Regions from separate parts of the Homo sapiens genome. Here regions 1, 3 and 4 are each linked to region 2. The links come from fine-mapping of genetic effects on gene expression. A gene starts in region 2. Each other region holds a variant in brackets. All regions are shown on one strand. Distances are from middle to middle. Region 1 has its middle 33 kb from the start of PLB1. Region 2 holds the start of PLB1 (phospholipase B1). Region 3 overlaps PLB1 (phospholipase B1). Region 4 has its middle 26 kb from the start of PLB1.

Region 1 (4,162 bases), 32 kb before region 2:
TCTTTTCCTTGATAAGGTAGAAGGCCAGTGGAGAGTGTTGAGCAAAGAGTGAAAAACTGGCATAGGTGTTAAAAGGTTTCCTTGGCTGCTATGTGGAAAATCACCAGTACAGTACCAGGAGTAGAAATAGGAGATCAGGGCTGAGTGTGGCAGCTCACACCTGTAATCCCAGCACTTTGGGAGGGCGAGTCAGGAGACCAGCCTGGGCAACATACTGAGACCCCACCTCTACAAAATAAAATAAAATAAAATAAATAGGAGATCAATGAGTAGGCTATTGCAGCAATCCAGGTGTATTCAAAACTCTTCTAGAAATAAGAAAAAAAAAAACAAAACAGTGGCTTGGACCAGGAAGACAAAGAAAGGCAGAAAAAATGGTCAGATTCTGAATACATTTTAATTTGAAGGTAGAAACAAGAATCCTTGTTGGGGTGTAAGAAAAAGAATGAATGCCATGGTTTTTGCCTGGGAACCATTAAGCCGGTGTTTCCATCACCAAGACAGGCAAGTCTATGGGAAAAAGCAGGTTTAGGTGGGTCAGAGTGGGAATCAGGATTTTTGTATTGACCTAGCTTTTTACTGTTTCCCACACTCTTCCTTTGTTTCTAATGATCCACATTTGTCTTCTGTATTGTTGCCTTTCAGCCTGAGAACTTTCTTAAGCATTTCTTGTAGTGAAGATGCTAATGGTGAATTCTTTTAGTTTTCTTGTTTTTGGGGAAATTTCTTTGTTTTACCTTCATTTTTGAAGGATATTTCATAAATCTGGGTTTGAAAAACTGGCTTCTGCCCTCCATGGTTTCTGATGAGAAGTCACCAGTGATTTGATTTTTTTTCCACCCCATGTGTAACATATCTTTTTTCTTGGGCTGTGTCAAGATTTCCTCTTTATCTTTGATTTTTAGCAGTTGGACTATGATGTGCCTAAGGGAGATTTTCTTTGTATTTATCCTACTTGAGGTATGCTGGGTTTCTTGAGTCTGTAAATGCATGTCTTTCACCAAATAAGGGGAAATTTTAGCCATTGTTTCTTCAAATATTTTCTCTTCTTTTATCCTGTAGTCTTTCTTTTTTCCTTCTGGGGTTTCATTTCACATGTTAAACATTTTGATACTGTTTTTACAGGCTCTTGAGGCTCTGTGTTTTTGTTGTTGTTGTTTGTTTTCAATCTTTGTTCTCTTTGTTGTGATTGGATACTTTTTGTACTGATCTGATTTCAAGGTTGTTGACTCCTTTATTATCTGAACACTGTTGTTAAGCCAAACTGGTGAATCTTTTATTTCAAACATTATCTTTTCCAGTTCTAGAATTTCTATTTAGTTTTCCTCTAAATCAAGTTTCTCTGCTGAGGTTTCCTATCTTTTTATTTGTTGTACATGTATCATCCTCAGCTTGCAAAGCATAGTTATAATAGCTACTTGAGAATTATGATTTTGTTAATTCCAATATCTAGGTCATCTCAGGGTCAGTCTCTGTTGATTGTCTTGTCTCTTAAAAATGGATCACATTTTCCCTGTTCTTCATATATGAAATAATTTGGATATTCTGAACATTATGATTGTTAAGTTGTGGAGACTCTGGATTCTGTTATTTCCCCTAACTGCTGATTTTTTTTTTTTTTTAATATAGATTCTTAGTTTGTCACTCAGGCTGGAGTGTGGTGGCACAATCATAGCTCACTGCAGTCTCAAACTTCTGGGTTCAAGCGATCTTCCCACCTCAAGCCTCCCAAGTAGCCACCATGCCTGGCTACTTTTTTAAATTTTTATTTAAATTTTATTTTTTGTAGAGAGGTGTCTCGCTATGTTGCCTAGTCTGGTCTCACACTCCTGGCTTCAAGTGCTCCTCTGGCTCCAGCCTCCCAAAGCACTGGGATTAAAGGATTGAGCCACTACGTCTGGCCAAATGCTGATTTTTAAA[T/C]TTTGTTTTGTTTTAAGCAAGCTATTAACTTGGTTGGATCAAGCTGTAAACCATCTCTTGAGCACCAGTTTAAATCTCAGTTTAGTTTGTACATTCTTATCTGGGCTGCTTGAGCCTGCCTCATGCATGCATGGACTAGGAATTGGCCAGAGATTTGGACAGTTTATACACAGAATTTGTGGTTCTTCTTCTCTGCGTCTCTCTGTTTATGGATTCTCCCTCTCACTTTCCAATGGCTGTGGTTGCCTCGAACTCTATCCTTTGATTCTTTAGGCCAGAAGGACTGCAGACTTTCTATCATCATTTTATCTGCCCTGTGTGACTCTACCATGGCCTGCCTTTTGGATAAAAGCCATAAAAACTGTGAAACTCATCGCATATGCATCTTCCTTTTCCAAGTAGTAACTCCTCTCCAGAAACTGCCTGCTTTTGTTCACACTCCAGGGCCTTCAGGTCGTTGTTTTTCCTATTTTGTTCAGAGTTTATGGTAGTTACCTGTAGGGGTTTATACAGCAGGAGCTCACTATGCTACCCTGGAAACAGAACTGCGAGAAGTTTTGTTTGGACACATTACATTTCAGATGGTCACAAGATATGCAAGTGAAGATGTGCACTAGCCAGTTGGATGTATGCACCCGGAGCTCTGGAGATAAATCATTTAACATTTGACAGGGTATAGAAGGTATGAAGAGTCATGTGTGTGGGTAAAATCACCTAGGCCGTGAGTGTAGATGCATAAGAGAAACAGGTCCAGAACCCAGATCAGTGCACTCCAGTGTTTACACACCAGCATGATGAGGAAGAAGTAAGAATGCAGATGAGAAAGAGTGGGCAATGTCGAAAGAGGAAAACCACAAGAGCGTTGTCTTGAAGTCAAAATGAAGAAAGTATTTCAAAAAAAGACAGAGTGACCAAAGGTATCAAATGCTGTTAATGGCTTAAGTAAGATAAAGATGAAAAGTTCACTACTGGGTTTAGCAACATGAAGGTCCTTGGTGAACTGACAACAGTTTTGTTCCAGTGGAAGACTCAGAACTCACTGAAACGAAGACTTGAATCCATAAGTTTGGAGAAAGCTTTCAAGAAATTTTAACTGCCAAGAGAATAGAAAAATAGGATTGAAGCTGGAGGGGGCTATGAGGTCAAGAGAAGTTATGTTTTGATTTTCGACATTGGGAAAAATTATATCATGTTGGTATGCCAGAGGGCATAATTGAGAGGGGATCATTGATGTGTCAGGAAAGTGAGAGTTGGGCCGGGTGTGGAGGCTCACACCTGTGATCCCAGCACTTTGGGAGGCCAAGGTGGGAGGATCATTTGAGCTCAGGAGTTCAAGACCAGCCTGGGCAACACAGAGAGACCCCATCTCTAATTTAAAGGAAAAAAAAGAAAGTGAGAGTACAGAATCCTGTGCTCCAATGGAGAGCCAGCCTTAGATAGAATTGTAGGCAGCTCATTCATAGCAACTGTCAAATCCACACCATCATTTTTTGTCAGTTCCTTCAGTCTGCAGATGATATTAAAGAAACCTATTCAATAAGTTAAGCAATTCAGGAATATGGAGACAGGGGATACAGACTATGCCACTAATTCATTGCCATACCCCAGGCGATCTTATGGAAGAGGCACTAAGGGGCTGAGATGGAGGGATGGAGGGAACAGGACTGGCCATGGGGTGGACTCCAAAGACATGATGCATGCAGAAGTTCCTGGCTTCCTCCTGGGCTAGGGTGAGGAGTGTGGCCAATATGCAAGTGTCAGGATGGTGGTGGTCACGGTGGGGAGGTATGTCTGCGAATGGTGGGACACACAGACCTCATTTGAGAAAACGGATAGCAGCTTCCCGAGGAAAGTCTGGAATCTGCCTGTGCACTCTGCTGTGGCCTCTTCGACTCAGGAATGAAGCCCATCAGAGCTTGGTCCCAGGCCTGGTTGTCACCTTGCTCCCATCAGGATTGCACTTGGTTGCCATCTTGCTCCACCCCTGGCCAGATAAAATTAATCTGAGACAGGATTTGGCTCACAGAGCAGGGTTGCCCCCACTCTGTCTCTGACCTAGTGGCTTTCAAACTCGTTTTCACCAATTTTACATCGTAATTTGGTGCACATACATATATGATATATAGACTTACATAGTATTGAAACAAAACTTTAATGAAACATTTGGTCATTTAATCACTTGTGATGCGCTCTGGTATTTTCCATTTTTTTTAATGCTAGTTACAACCAACGAAACTGATTT
Region 2 (4,162 bases):
GCTAATTCAGGGGCCTGTGCCTTTCCCAAAAGGAGCACCTGGGTGATTATTGCTAAAATCTGAAATGGAGAATATTTCTCATCCCCTTTTATAGGACATGTCCTCTTAGGACATTTTCTAGCAAAAGTCAGAGAACAAAAGTTTATGGACAAGTGATGGAGCCTTTGACTTCAGACGACTTTCCCCTTGTTTTCATAGCTGCTACTAGACCACATAAATAGTAGGTGCCAGTTAAGCTGCGATGCTGTAAGGGTGCCAAGAGGCTGGGCGACGTGGCTCATGCCTGTAAACGCGGCACTTTGGGAGGCCAAGGTGGGAGGATTGATTGAGCCCAAGAGTTCAAGACCAGCCTGGGCAGTATAGTGAGACCTCATCTCTGTTTTTCAAAAAAATTTTTAAAAAGAGTGTCTAAGAAATGTTGCTTCCCCTACAGCCTCACAGTTGGTGAGGATTCCTTGATGCATGGATGGAACTCAGAGATTTATTCTACCTAAAAGGACATCCAGTCTATCCCATACCAAAATGCCTTCCCAACATTCAAATGTTTTTAAGGCATTTCTCAATTTTTCTAAATGTGAAAGGAGTTAGAGGAAGGATGGTAACCCAGTTGGGCTGTGGTAGTCCTGGAGAGAAGCAGTTAAGAGATGGAGCGAGTACCTGGAGCGTGGAACCAACTTACTTCTGCGCATGCCCCATGTCCTTTCCACCCCACCTCCAGCTGGCCTGCACATGAGTGGGGACCTTGGCCTATTCAGCCCAGGCAAGTTCAGTGATGCTCCTCAAAGCTGCTGGTGGCATGGAGCTGGGTAAACTCCTGACATCCTTAGTGGGACAGCAGCTCTGGCTTCTCATTGAACTTGGGGGCAGTTTGGTGAAGTTGACAAGTGTCTACATATCCAGGGGCATCTGTGCTCACTTGTCCCCCACAGACCTTGGCCTTGGGTGTATTTTCTTCTTCCTTTTCTGTGTGTCTGTGTGTGCTGCCCTCTTCTAGGCTCTGGAACTAGCTGATGGCCAGCTGGACTAAGTGTGTCAGTGTCCACACACCTCTGGCATGTCCCAATACCCCCCTACAGTCCTGAGGCTTAGGCTAAGCCTTTGGCATTGGCTAAATCAGTGGTGACCCACAAGTCACATATTTTCTGAGCAGTTGAGAAAGGGAGACAACATCCTAAAACCAGAGATTCAGGAACAAAGGGCCACTCACTTCGTCTTCACTTTCTACTCAAGACAATAGAGGTTATAACAGTAATTAAAAACAATTTTTTTTTAATTGAGATGGAATCTTGCTCTTGTCCAGGCTGGAGTGCAGTGGTGCAATCATAGCTCACTGCAACCTTGAACTCTTGGGCTCAAGCAATCCTCTTGCCTCAGCCTCCCAAGTACCTGGGACTACAGGTGCATGCCACCATGCCTGGCTAATTTATTTTTATTTTTTGTAGAGATGGAGTTGCCCAGGCTGGTTTTCAAACTCCTGGGTTCAAATAATCCTCCTTCTTTAGCCTTCCAAAGTGCTGGGATCACAGGTGTGAGCCACTGTGTCTGGCTGTGATTTTTAAATATGAGAAAAGTGGGTCAGCCAGGAGATCAGAATCTGAGGTTGGGTCATGGGAACCAGCCCTAGAGTCTTAGCTAGACCTCAGAAGTCAGGATCCCAGCCTCACACCCACAAGCATGGCCAGAAAGCAAGGATAATTTAAATATATTTGTTCCTATCAACCAAGGCAATTGTTTCTTGATATTTGTGTAAAAAATTTAAATTCTACTCTCAAGGGTATTTGTCACTCAGGCTTTAAATGCCAGCTTTGTCTGCCCAGTTTAGACCCAGCCTGCATTCCTGACTTAGTTTACCCAAAGGAAACGGCTGATTTTGTCAAACTTGGTTCCCCCTCTCTGGCTTGTATCTCTGAATTCAACATGCAGACAACAAATCTATGGTGTGCACATCCACCCAACACAACTGGCCACCCATGGGTTTGGAGATGGGGGGAACAGAACAAACCTCTCTGTGTCATGCAAACCAGGGAACCTAGCAGAGCTTCTGAGACACGGTGGGAACACGTTTCACATTTGGAGGTAGGTTTATGGTTTACATTTGTTACAAGGTACTTTTGATCTCCTGGCTTACAACTGAGAAAGCTGAGGCCACGTTAAGGGATACACCCAAGTTCCCACAGCTGTGGTTGATTTGGAATTCCGACCAGCACCTGGGATTCCCAGGCCCACGTTCTTCCCAGCAGACCCGAACACCGGCAATTTCTGGGCACCCACCATCATGGAAGGCTGTATGGAGGCAGCTATGCGGCCCTGGTCTGTCAGTGTCTATGACTAGAACATGCTACCCATCATTGACTCATCTGCCTTAAGAACTCTTCCGCCTAAGTGTTAATATTTATCATTTACAGCCCGCCACTACCCCCTTTCAAAGGTGAACACAGTAAAATTTATGACAGGTGCTCTATCAGAACACAGAGGAACATAAAAGCAGGAGGAGGTGTGATAGCCCATCCATCTGCTGGAGCAGCTCTTCCAGAGGCCCGAGTCACCTGGAGCATTCTGGCATGGGGCTGCGGCCAGGCATTTTCCTCCTGGAGCTGCTGCTGCTTCTGGGGCAAGGTAAGCGTGCCTTTTGCTCAGAGGACAACCAGTGGTTTAGCCCCGCTGGTGTCCCATGTTGCTTAGGCAATGGGTGTGTGAGAGGAGTGTGTGCTTTTGAAGAGATAAAGCACAAAGCGTACAGTTCAAGAATAAGAAGTCTGGTTTGCCTCCTGCGGAATGGGATGCAGAGGCTGCCTACACAGGGTTACATGTCCCAAAGGCTGCCGGGAGCGAGGCAGATCTTGGGACAGGAGAGAAGTGCAGTCCGGTAGCAGTACCATGGTACAAAAAAAACCCCTGGATTCTATTTGTTTGTGCTTTGTGGCTTTGGGCAAGTTCTTCCACCTCCCTGGACCTTGATTTTTTTCATCCTTAAAATGGAAATACTACTACTATGCACATTTTGATCATTACTATTACCATTTATGAGCTTTGTTTTGTTTTTGAAGGACAAAGGAAGACAGATTTCCAGATGATAAATTCTAAAAGATTGCCTACATTCTTTAGTGCTGCTAAACAGAGTGCTGAGCTTTCATTGAACTGAGTGGGCAACCAGCCAGGGCTTTCCATTCCCCCCAACATTAATGACTGTGGGTAGATTGTGCCTCTGCCACAATCCCTCTCTGCCCCTCTTCTTCCCATCATTGGCTCTCCCTTTGCTTAGGAAGGCAGAATCTTTTAAACTGAAAAGGGCCTTAAAGATCTTTCATCTTCTCCAGATGAGAGGACGGGGTCTGGAGTGAGAAGGCACTTGCCCTTGACTCCCCAGAGAGAGTGGAGGAGGCATGGGACAGAGTCCTGGGCCTGCCTAGGGTCTGAGCCCATGCTTGAGGCTTCTCTGGGGCAAGTCAGTTACCGCTCTGAGCCGTGGGGGAGAATGACGATGCTTGCTATGCCTTCTGCACAGGATGATTGTATTTCTTTGATTACTGATGAGGCCAAGGAGTGTTTTCATAGAGATTGTTTGAGTTTCTCTTTTGTGAAGTGCCTGTTGAAGTCTTTTTCCTATTGATTTTTTAGGAGTTCTCCATATATGCTGTGTACTAGCTCTTTGGAGGTTACATATATGACAAATATCTTGTTCCACTCTGAAGCTTGTCCTCCTATGGGGACTTTTGATGAGCAAAATTCTTAATTTTGTGTAAATAAATGTAGACTACCCAAATGAGGACAAACAGAGGCTACTTATTCAGAGCTCGCTGTAGCGAGACATCACTTATGTTTGGCCAAGATTCAAAGGCAGGCAGGGGAGTGGGAAAGTTTCACAGTGGAAAAAAGGGAAATCTTCAGATCTGCTCTGGTTGGAGGTTGTTGGTATCAGGGACCAGCTGACTAGAGGCACGGCATCTGAAGTTATCCAGTTGGGAGTGTATCTGGCTTTCTCTGAGGGGTCCTGAGTTGGAAGCAGAGCAAAAAATAGAGAAGATGGCAGTCATTAACCAAACCTGACCATTCTGGGCTGATTGCTGCAGAGGCTGCAGTTTGGTTCTCTGGCCTGGCCGATTGCAGACTGTGGCTCAGAGTTCTGTTATCATATGTGGTCCCACCGTTGTCCATTTGTATA
Region 3 (4,162 bases), 110 kb after region 2:
CGAGTTCTGAGCTTTCCCCACTGCAGGATTCTGCCAGGGAATGTTCACTTCCATGGAAACAAACTACTACACCCGTGTCTCTCTTTTCTTCCCTGATCAGCTTGAACCACTTGGAAGCAAAACAGAGACCCTGGACCTGAGAGCAGAGATGCCCATCACCTGTCCCACTCAGGTAGTAGGGGAGGACCTGCCTGGCTCCTCTCCACAAACCAGGGCACACAGCTCGCCCTACCCACTTCGTCCTCCACCACAGCTTCCTCAGTACCCATCTTGCCCCCTTACTGAGGCCTGAGAGATTTGGAGGATGGAGGGGAGTCCATGAGGATGGACAGGGGAGGTGAGAGGGGAGACAAGAGTGCAGCTGTCATTGGGAACAGGAGATGCAGCAGGGAGAGGAGGCCTGGGCCCCAGCAGAGGGAGAGGATCCCGGTGAGAAAAGTGGGCTCCTGAGAGAGGAAATCAGGATGCCAGGAAAATGGCAGGAGGGCTTCTCTTAGCAGTGGTGTTTGGGGCAGATGAAAAAATCTGACTGCAGGTTAGAGGGCCCAGGCAGGAGCCAGGCAGGCTTAAGAGCTGTGGTTGGAGAGAGGAGAGCCTGGATTAGGGAGATTCCACAAGGAAAGGATCACAGAGGACAGCAGCAAAGGGCAGAGCCCAGAGCTGTATGGAGGAGGGACGAGGGTGGGCCTACCAGGACACGGCAGCTCCAGGCTCCTTTTAAGGAGGAATCCGTAAGTGGTTGTTAAGCTTGACTTCAGGCCTGGGGTGGGGGCAGGTTCTCATTGTCTTCAGCTCCTGTTTCTAGGCCCGGTCTTATGGCTTTTTAACCAAATAAGGCCAAGGCCAGAAAACCCTCAGCAGCAATAAAAGCAGAAGGCCTGACCCAATCTGGGAGGCTGGGTTTCCCTCCTAGGTCGGCCACACCACCCTCTCCCACCCTCCCTGCTGGGGAATGGACCTGCAGCTCCCCCATGTGTCTGCTGGGAATCCTGAGAGAGTGGGCACCCCTGTTCACATGCCTGCTCCCTGTCTGCTGCCTGCCCTACCCCAGTCTTGGGCTCAGGCTCAGTCTTGTGTGCCATCAGCCCCATCAGGAGAGCAAGAATGGCAGGAAGAAGGGATGGGAAGTGAAGACAGTCGTAGCAGAGGGCTCAGTTGCTGGGTCTTGTGCTTGGAGCTAAGGAGATTGTCAGATTCTGCAACAGCTAGTGCAACACAGATGCCTCTAGTCCAGGTGGTCAGGTGCTGGCCAAAGGCCTGGAGCAAAACCTTAGAGGCCCCTACTGTGCCAGGTGTAAACTCTTTAACTGCTTTCCTAAGGATGCCTGGGGGTTCTAGGGGAGCAGCCAGGGACCGTGGATAGTGGGGGCATTTGGGGACTCAGAAATAGCCATATTGTAGATATGTCAATATTTTACCAACCCTATAGCCATACTGAATATCAGCCATGGAGGGCCCTTTCCAAACTGTCCACTCCCCTTCCATTACATAACAAAAGCAGCCATCATTTGCTCTTTCTTTCAACAAACGTGTATTGAGTACTGAGTTGGAGCCTAAGCACTGGGTCAGGGAGAGCCCTGTCACCCTGGGCTTCGAGGCAACCACTTCCAGGCTTTACCCCAGATCAGGCAGAGACCCCCAAAAGGAGGCTG[C/T]TCCACCCAGCAGCATCTTAAGCTGAGTGGGCTCAGTGCCTCCCTTCTAGACAGAGCCCAATGGAGCCACTGCACTGATTTGCAGAGGTGAGCAGATCCAGCCTCGTGGAACCAGTAGAAGCCCAGCCCTGGTGAAGCTGTTGCTAAGCAACATTGGAGCCCATTCTGAAAGGGTCCATCTGTTGGCCAGCCCAACTTCACTGTGTTCTGAGCATTCTGCATTCCTCAGTCCCATCTGCTCCCTCCCATGTGCCTTGGAGTGATATAAAAGTCCACCAGCATCTCAGTGTGAGCTGACAGGGGCCAGGCAGCACCTATTTTTGTCCTAGATGTGTCTAAACATAGAGGCAACAGGCAACAGGCAAGACGCAGTGGGGGGCGGGAGGCAGGAGGCCGAGATGGCTGTGAGCATGAGCTTTCTCAGCCTCCTCCCTTCTCCCATCCGCAGTCTAACTGCTCATACGTTCTGTGTGCCAGGTAGGGTGACTTAACAGCACGCCATGGATTTCTGTTGTAGTTTCAAGTTGGACAAATTCTTTTACAGACAACTTTTGACTAGCCTTCTGTGGACTGAGCCTATACTCTGCCTTAATGGGCTCTCTGCCCACTCCTTTCCTAACCCCAGGGCAGCTGGCTGAACACCTGGTCCTTTTCTTAGGTTTCATTCTTTTTGACCTCTCTGAAGCCCTTGTCAAAAGTCACCACCTCCCCCTTGAAATTCACTCCTTCCTGGGTTTGTGGACACTAAATCGCCTTGATTTTTCTGGTCTTCTGTTTGCTTGCCTTTAATGACCCTCCTCCTCCCTTTCCCCAGTCTTGAAAATGTAGATATTCTCCAATTTTCATGTCTCCATTCTATTTTCTTTCCTTTTTCACTCACTTTTTGAAACAGGGTCTTGCTCCGTCTCCCAGGCTGGAAGTGCAGTGGCGCAATCACAGCTCTCTGCAGCTTTCAACTCCTAGGCTCAAGCCATCCTCCCACCTCAGCCTCCTGAGTAGTTGGGACTGCAGGCATGCACCACCATGCCCAGCTAATTTTGGTTTATTTGTTTTGGTAGAGGTGGGGTCTTGCCATTTTGCTCAGGCTGATTTTGAACTCTGGACTCAAGTGATCCATCAGCCTTGGCCTTCCAAAGAGCTGGGATTACAAGTGTGAGCAGCTGTGCCCGGCCTCTGTTTTCTTTTCTCTCTCTCCACATCCTCTCACTCTGAGACTTACCCATTTCCAGGATTTCCTGTAAAATTTCTTTGTGCTGGATTCCTCAGTCTCTCAATCTGTGTCTTCATTTCTCCTTTCCCGAACTCCAATCCTCTATTTCTGACCTTTAAAATACATTTCCCCTTGGATGCTCTATCTGGTATAAGGTTACCCAAAAGGCAGATTAATGTATGATCAAGCAGGAGGGGGCTGAAATAAGTTCATGTATCATACCCTATCTTTTCTTATGAGAAAAAGCCGAAGTTTATCAAATTCCCTTAAACTTAGTTTGTTGTTTAGCAGTGCTTCTGTATTGAATTACATATAAGTGACATTGTTATCTTTTTGACGCTCAGAGCTTCTAAATCCAATCCTGCCATGACCCCACCACCATCTCAAGCTTAACATTCATTCAAAAAATAATTTTCTGAGCAAGGAGTGTCTAAATAGGAACTAATTCTTTGTCTTCCCAAACTCTCTGTTCCTTAGGAGTTCTCTATTTCTGCCAACTTCATTAGGGTTTTCAAGCTCTACAGGCATGAAATGTCAGGGACCCTATCTAATCGGATTCTTACCAGTCCTCCAGAATCTAATAGGATTCTTCCCACCTGTCCCTCTTCCTTTTCCCACTGCCACTGCAGGGGCTCAGATTCTCATCACTTTGTACGTTAAAGGCTAACTAGTCGCACCTTCCCACCATGAAACAATAGACTTATGTAATCTTAGGTTCTCAGTGGGGAGGGCCTTAGACTTCTGTGGATGCAATCTCTCATAGAATAATGGAATTCTTCTACCACATCCCTCCCAAGACACCCTATGGCCTCTGCTTAAATGTTCACACTTTCTTTTTTATTTATTTATTTATTTGACTTTAAGTTCCAGGATACATGTGCAGAAGGTGCAGGTTTGTTACATAAGTATACATGTGCCATGGTGGTTTGCTGTACCTATCAACCGGTCATCTAGATTTTAAGCTGTGCATGCATTAGGTATTTGTCCTAATGCTCTCTGTCCCCAAATGTTCACACTTTCTTACCACCTGAAATCAGTGTAGGTAAAGAACCAGCACTTTTTTTTTTTTAATTAATAGTGATGGGGTCTCACTCTGTTGCCCAGGCTGGTCTCAAACTCCTGAGCTCAAGCAATCTTCCCACACTGGCCTCCCAAAGTGCTGGGATTACATGTGTGAACCACCACACTCGGCCGGAACTAGCACTTTTTGAATGGAATGGGATAGAAAACCTCTTAGGACATCCCGTGAAATACCATTATGTCCTCCTGCCTCTGACTGCCACCACCCAGCTGAGAGTCT
Region 4 (4,162 bases), 26 kb before region 2:
GGGTCTTATGCACACTGAGAGGAGTGTGAATATGCCTACATGTGCCATGTGCCATAGCACACGTTCTTTGGAGAAGGCACAAGAGATTCACCAAGTCCCACAGGGATGTAGGGAGCTGTGTAATAATGTGAAACCCTCCTTGGAAATTAAGCCATTCATCAATTCACTCAGCCATTTTGCTAATTTATGAAATGCAGACTTTGGGCCATACCCCGCACCTCTCCTTTGGGGGAGGCAAAGGAGCAGAAGCCAGGCTGGCTGCCTTTTTGGAGCTTTCAGCCCTGGGTAGGGAGAAGAATCAGGCCCACATCTAATCAGGAACCAAAGCAGGACCAATCGAGTGGCAGGTGAAGGGCTCAGGCAGCAAGGGCTTGGGGGTTCAGACACCAGGGTGGTTAGAAAGAGCTTCATGGAGGCAAAGGGCAAGGAGAGGATAGAGTCAGAAGGTGGAGGTCTGGGGCCTGGCCAACAGGCAGAACAGACTATCAGATGTAGTTTGGGATGTCAGGAGAAGGAGCCTTCATTTCACTCCTTCCTTGTACCAATGGGAGGAGTTTAAATTCTAGGTCTTCTTAAATTTTTTAAATTTTAAACATTTTTTGAGACAGGGTCTTTCTCTGTCACCCAGGCGGGAGTGCAGTGGCAGGATCATGGCTCACTACCTCCCAGGCTCAAGGGATCCTTCCACTTCAGCCTCCTGAGTAGATGGGACCACAGGCACACAGTCCAACTATTTTTTTTTTGTAGAGATGGGGTCTCGCCATATTGCCCAGGCTAGTCTTGGACTCCTGTTCTCAAGCAATTCTCCTGCCTCGGCCTCCCAAAATATTGGGATTCTAAGTATGAGCCACCTCTCCTGGCCTCTAGGTCTTAATCTACATTCTAATTCATGGCTTTATTCACTTCAACACATTTTTATTGAGCAGCTACTCAGTGCTGCGCTGCTAGGTGCTGGCAACTGGGGCTATAGAAAGGCAAAGTTCTCAAGGACTCCTGCATCTATACAAAGACAGACCTATGATCCACAAAAGACTGAGGATCAGGGCTATTCTGGGGGCACAGGGTGCCAGTGGGCCTGGCCAGAGGAGGGACACCAAGGAAGTTAGGGGAAATGGCAGGGTGGTTTTCCAGGGGCACGGATTGCATTTGAAGTAAGAGTTATCCAGGCGGGGGAGGAGGGAGGGAAGGGGGTGGTCTCTGCTGAGAAATTACCGTATGCAAAGCCTCATAAATGATGAGTGCTGGGTGCATTTAGTCTAACTGGAGTATGAGGCATAAGGGCATGGTTGGGTAGAGGGCAGGAAAGGGGGCTGGGAGATGAACCCCAGAAATGTCCTTTCCATTTGTCTGGGGGCTCCGGGAGGCTGCTGGACTGCTGATTAACTAATTCCCCAATAAGCCTTCAAGTGAGGCCCAGTCCAGCTGGACAAGAGCTCCCCTTGTCACTGTGTGTGGTGACACCTCTGATTTGCCTGGTCATTTAGTTCTTCTCTTAGGAAGAGGGCTGGATAAGGAGAGACTCTGCTCACCGCCTTGAGTGGGTTCTCTTTGCTTTGAGTTGTGTGGACTTCTGTGAGTAGACACCTACTGTCCTGGGGGAAGGACAGGCATGATGGGACGGTTTGGACCCCGTTCTCACACGTTCCTTTGCAGGTGGAGCTGGAAGGCTGCTGGGAAGGAGGTGTCAGCTGTGCAGTGGCCCTGAGCAGCCTCAGGAACCTGCCTCCTGCTTGCTGGGGACCATGATTTCTCACATCTCTAAGAGATGAAGGCAGATCCTCTGAGGTCAGCTGGTGGGAGAGAACCCTGGGGCCTTAGGAAGGAAACTCTCTGAGCCTGGGAGATGCTGATCCAGTGCCCCTGGCCTAGCCAATCAGGGCCACTCTGGGTGTGCTGGAAAGAGAGGCTTCTCTTCTCTCCCCATCCTTGGAGGGATTTTGGCTGGATACTGGCCAGCAGGCATTGCCTTAGTCATAGTGATGGCAGGGAACTGGGACAGCCCTGGCTGTGTGATTTCCACAGCCACCCCCACAGGGCCTCAATTCTTCAGTTTTCTATCCCAAGGGGACTAGTTGGAAGATCACTGACTGCTTAAACTGAGTAAGTCCCTGGGGGAAGGTGGATTTATGGAAGAGCAAATTCTTGAAAAGGGAGAGCGTGGGCTAAAGCCATGTATTTATTTACTTATTTATTCATTCAATGTTTTGTTTTTTCTTTACTTGTTTAAAAAAAAACACTTCATCTCTTTGAAAAAATAGAAATAATACAGAAATCAACAAAGCCAGAAAAATGTTCCCCCTTGCGGGAAGGGTGAGCTACACACCCTGCCCACAAATAGAATGGGAAATGTATAATTTCCTGAAAAATGGAGCTAAAGCAGGAAAATCGAAGAAGAAGAAGAGGAAGAAGAAGAAGGAGGAGGAGGAGGAGAAGAAAGAGGAGGAGGAGGGAGAAGGGGAAGTGGGATGAAGAGGAGGGGGAAGGGGAGGAGGGGGAGAAAGAGGAGGAGGAAGGGGAGGAGGAGAGGGAGGAGGGGGAGGGGGAGGAAGAGGGGGAGAAGAAAGAGGAAGAGAG[C/A]AGGAGAGGAAGAGGAGGAGGAGGAGGAGGAAGTGGGAGGATATCCTTTCAAAGTTTTTGTTCTGTGCATACAAAAATATGAACACCTTAGGCCTCTTCCCATGCCAATAGTGTAACTCCACCTGGCCTTTGGCACCATTCATTCTGTTTGCACAGCACGAGAAGAAGGTCTGTGAGGAGCAGCCTGGCTGGTGGGCAGGTTCTGTCAGTTGCACGAGCACAGCTTCTTCTTTGGCTGTTATTGGGGGTCATCTCTGCTCAGCCAGGCCTTTCCCTGTCCAAGGTCACTCTGCTGCAGGCACAGGAGGAACCAGAAAAAGGCCAAAGTGGTCTAACACACAGGGGTGAGGTGTGAGGTGAGGTGCTGGGCTGGCCTCAGGGTCGGAAGGCAGGTGCTGGCAGAGAGGCGTTTGTTGGCTTTGGGCACTTCCAGCCACAGGAAGTGTTTGTTCTTTTCAGGACAGGGGAATCCTTATTTCCATTCAACAAAAACATTTTGTATAAGACCAAAAGGGGTGCAAAGAAGAGTTCTAATTGAGAGGAGTTTGCCAGCTCTAAAGAACGTCCAATTTGGGCGCTGTCAGAGAGACTCAGAATGTTCTGAAGCTCCACAGTTGGTGAGAGGGGACCAGAAACACACCCCAATGACAGGCACTCCTGAGGACAGACCAGGAGCAGGTGCTGTGCTGAGCACTCCATATACCTGATTCATTCCATTCTCACCTCTGAGCTAGGGATCGTCCCCTCCTCTCATGAACTGGGAAAGTTTATTACTCATTGAACAGACTCAGAAGGATGTGAAGTGACTTGCCCAGGTCCACATGGTTGGAAAGTGGCCAAGCAGGAATTAAGGGCCAAGGTCTCTGACTCCAAAGTGCACCCTTATGTGCATTTTGCTCTGAGACAGGTGGGGTTCGAGGTGAATCTGGAGGGCAGGAAGGGACTTATCAGGTGAAGGCAGGAGGAAGGCCTTCCAGGCTGAAGGTGCAGCTGGAACGAAGACACAGAGGCAGCGTGGCCCTAGAACTATGTGGCGGGCTCTGAGGGAATCTTTCAGGTTAAGGCTAGAGGGAGGGCTTGGGCTCAGGATGGAGGGCCCTGAGGGTCTGGGAGAGGGGCATGTGACCCTTCCAGAAGGCCACAGGCATCATGGGTGAAGGGAAGAGGCCCAAGCTGACAGCACTGAGGAGAAGCCCGGTGATGAGGGGAGGAAGGGAAGAAGCCAATGAAGAGTGCAGGAGGAGGAGCCTGCTGGGATATGGGCGGGAGCCAGGGCGGGGGAGGATCTGCCTCCCTCATGTGGCCACCACAGTGTTCTCAGGGATGAACTGCCTAGAAAGGCTTGTCCCAGGCTGAAGGTCCAGCTGGCAGAGCCCAGGGAGAAGCCCAAGGGCACCCATCATGCCAGCGAAGAGAGCAAGAGGCCAGCTGTGAGGGTGACAGGAAGAGGGAGAAAGGAGTTTGTGAACGGTTCAGGTAGGAGATGACCCTTTATCGATTTGGTTGTGGGGATGGAGAAGGGTGAGGTGTGATAAAAGCTGCAGTGCAATGCTTGGATCCTTCCCACAGCCCCCGCCCTGGCCAGGAT

Evidence for each region.
Region 1: its variant is fine-mapped to the expression of PLB1 in whole blood (INTERVAL, PIP above 0.99).
Region 3: its variant is fine-mapped to the expression of PLB1 in blood mononuclear cells (TOPMed, PIP 0.95).
Region 4: its variant is fine-mapped to the expression of PLB1 in whole blood (TOPMed, PIP above 0.99).

Annotation. Positions count from the first base shown.
Region 1 is chr2:28,461,341-28,465,502 of GRCh38, forward strand. No RefSeq gene overlaps it. Among named protein-coding and RNA genes, the nearest start is that of PLB1, 33 kb to the right of the region's middle. The variant T/C (reference allele first, on the strand shown) is at 1,921.
Region 2 is chr2:28,493,554-28,497,715 of GRCh38, forward strand. It overlaps PLB1 (phospholipase B1), which reads left to right and starts at 2,507. Exons shown (of 58, transcript NM_153021.5): 1 at 2,507-2,616. The coding sequence starts at 2,562.
Region 3 is chr2:28,606,396-28,610,557 of GRCh38, forward strand. PLB1 (phospholipase B1) reads left to right here. Exons shown (of 58, transcript NM_153021.5): 43 at 101-172. Among named protein-coding and RNA genes, the nearest start is that of PLB1, 110 kb to the left of the region's middle. RefSeq lists enhancers at 1-513, 514-1,144, 1,145-1,776 and a silencer at 991-1,158. The variant C/T (reference allele first, on the strand shown) is at 1,653.
Region 4 is chr2:28,467,564-28,471,725 of GRCh38, forward strand. No RefSeq gene overlaps it. Among named protein-coding and RNA genes, the nearest start is that of PLB1, 26 kb to the right of the region's middle. The variant C/A (reference allele first, on the strand shown) is at 2,575.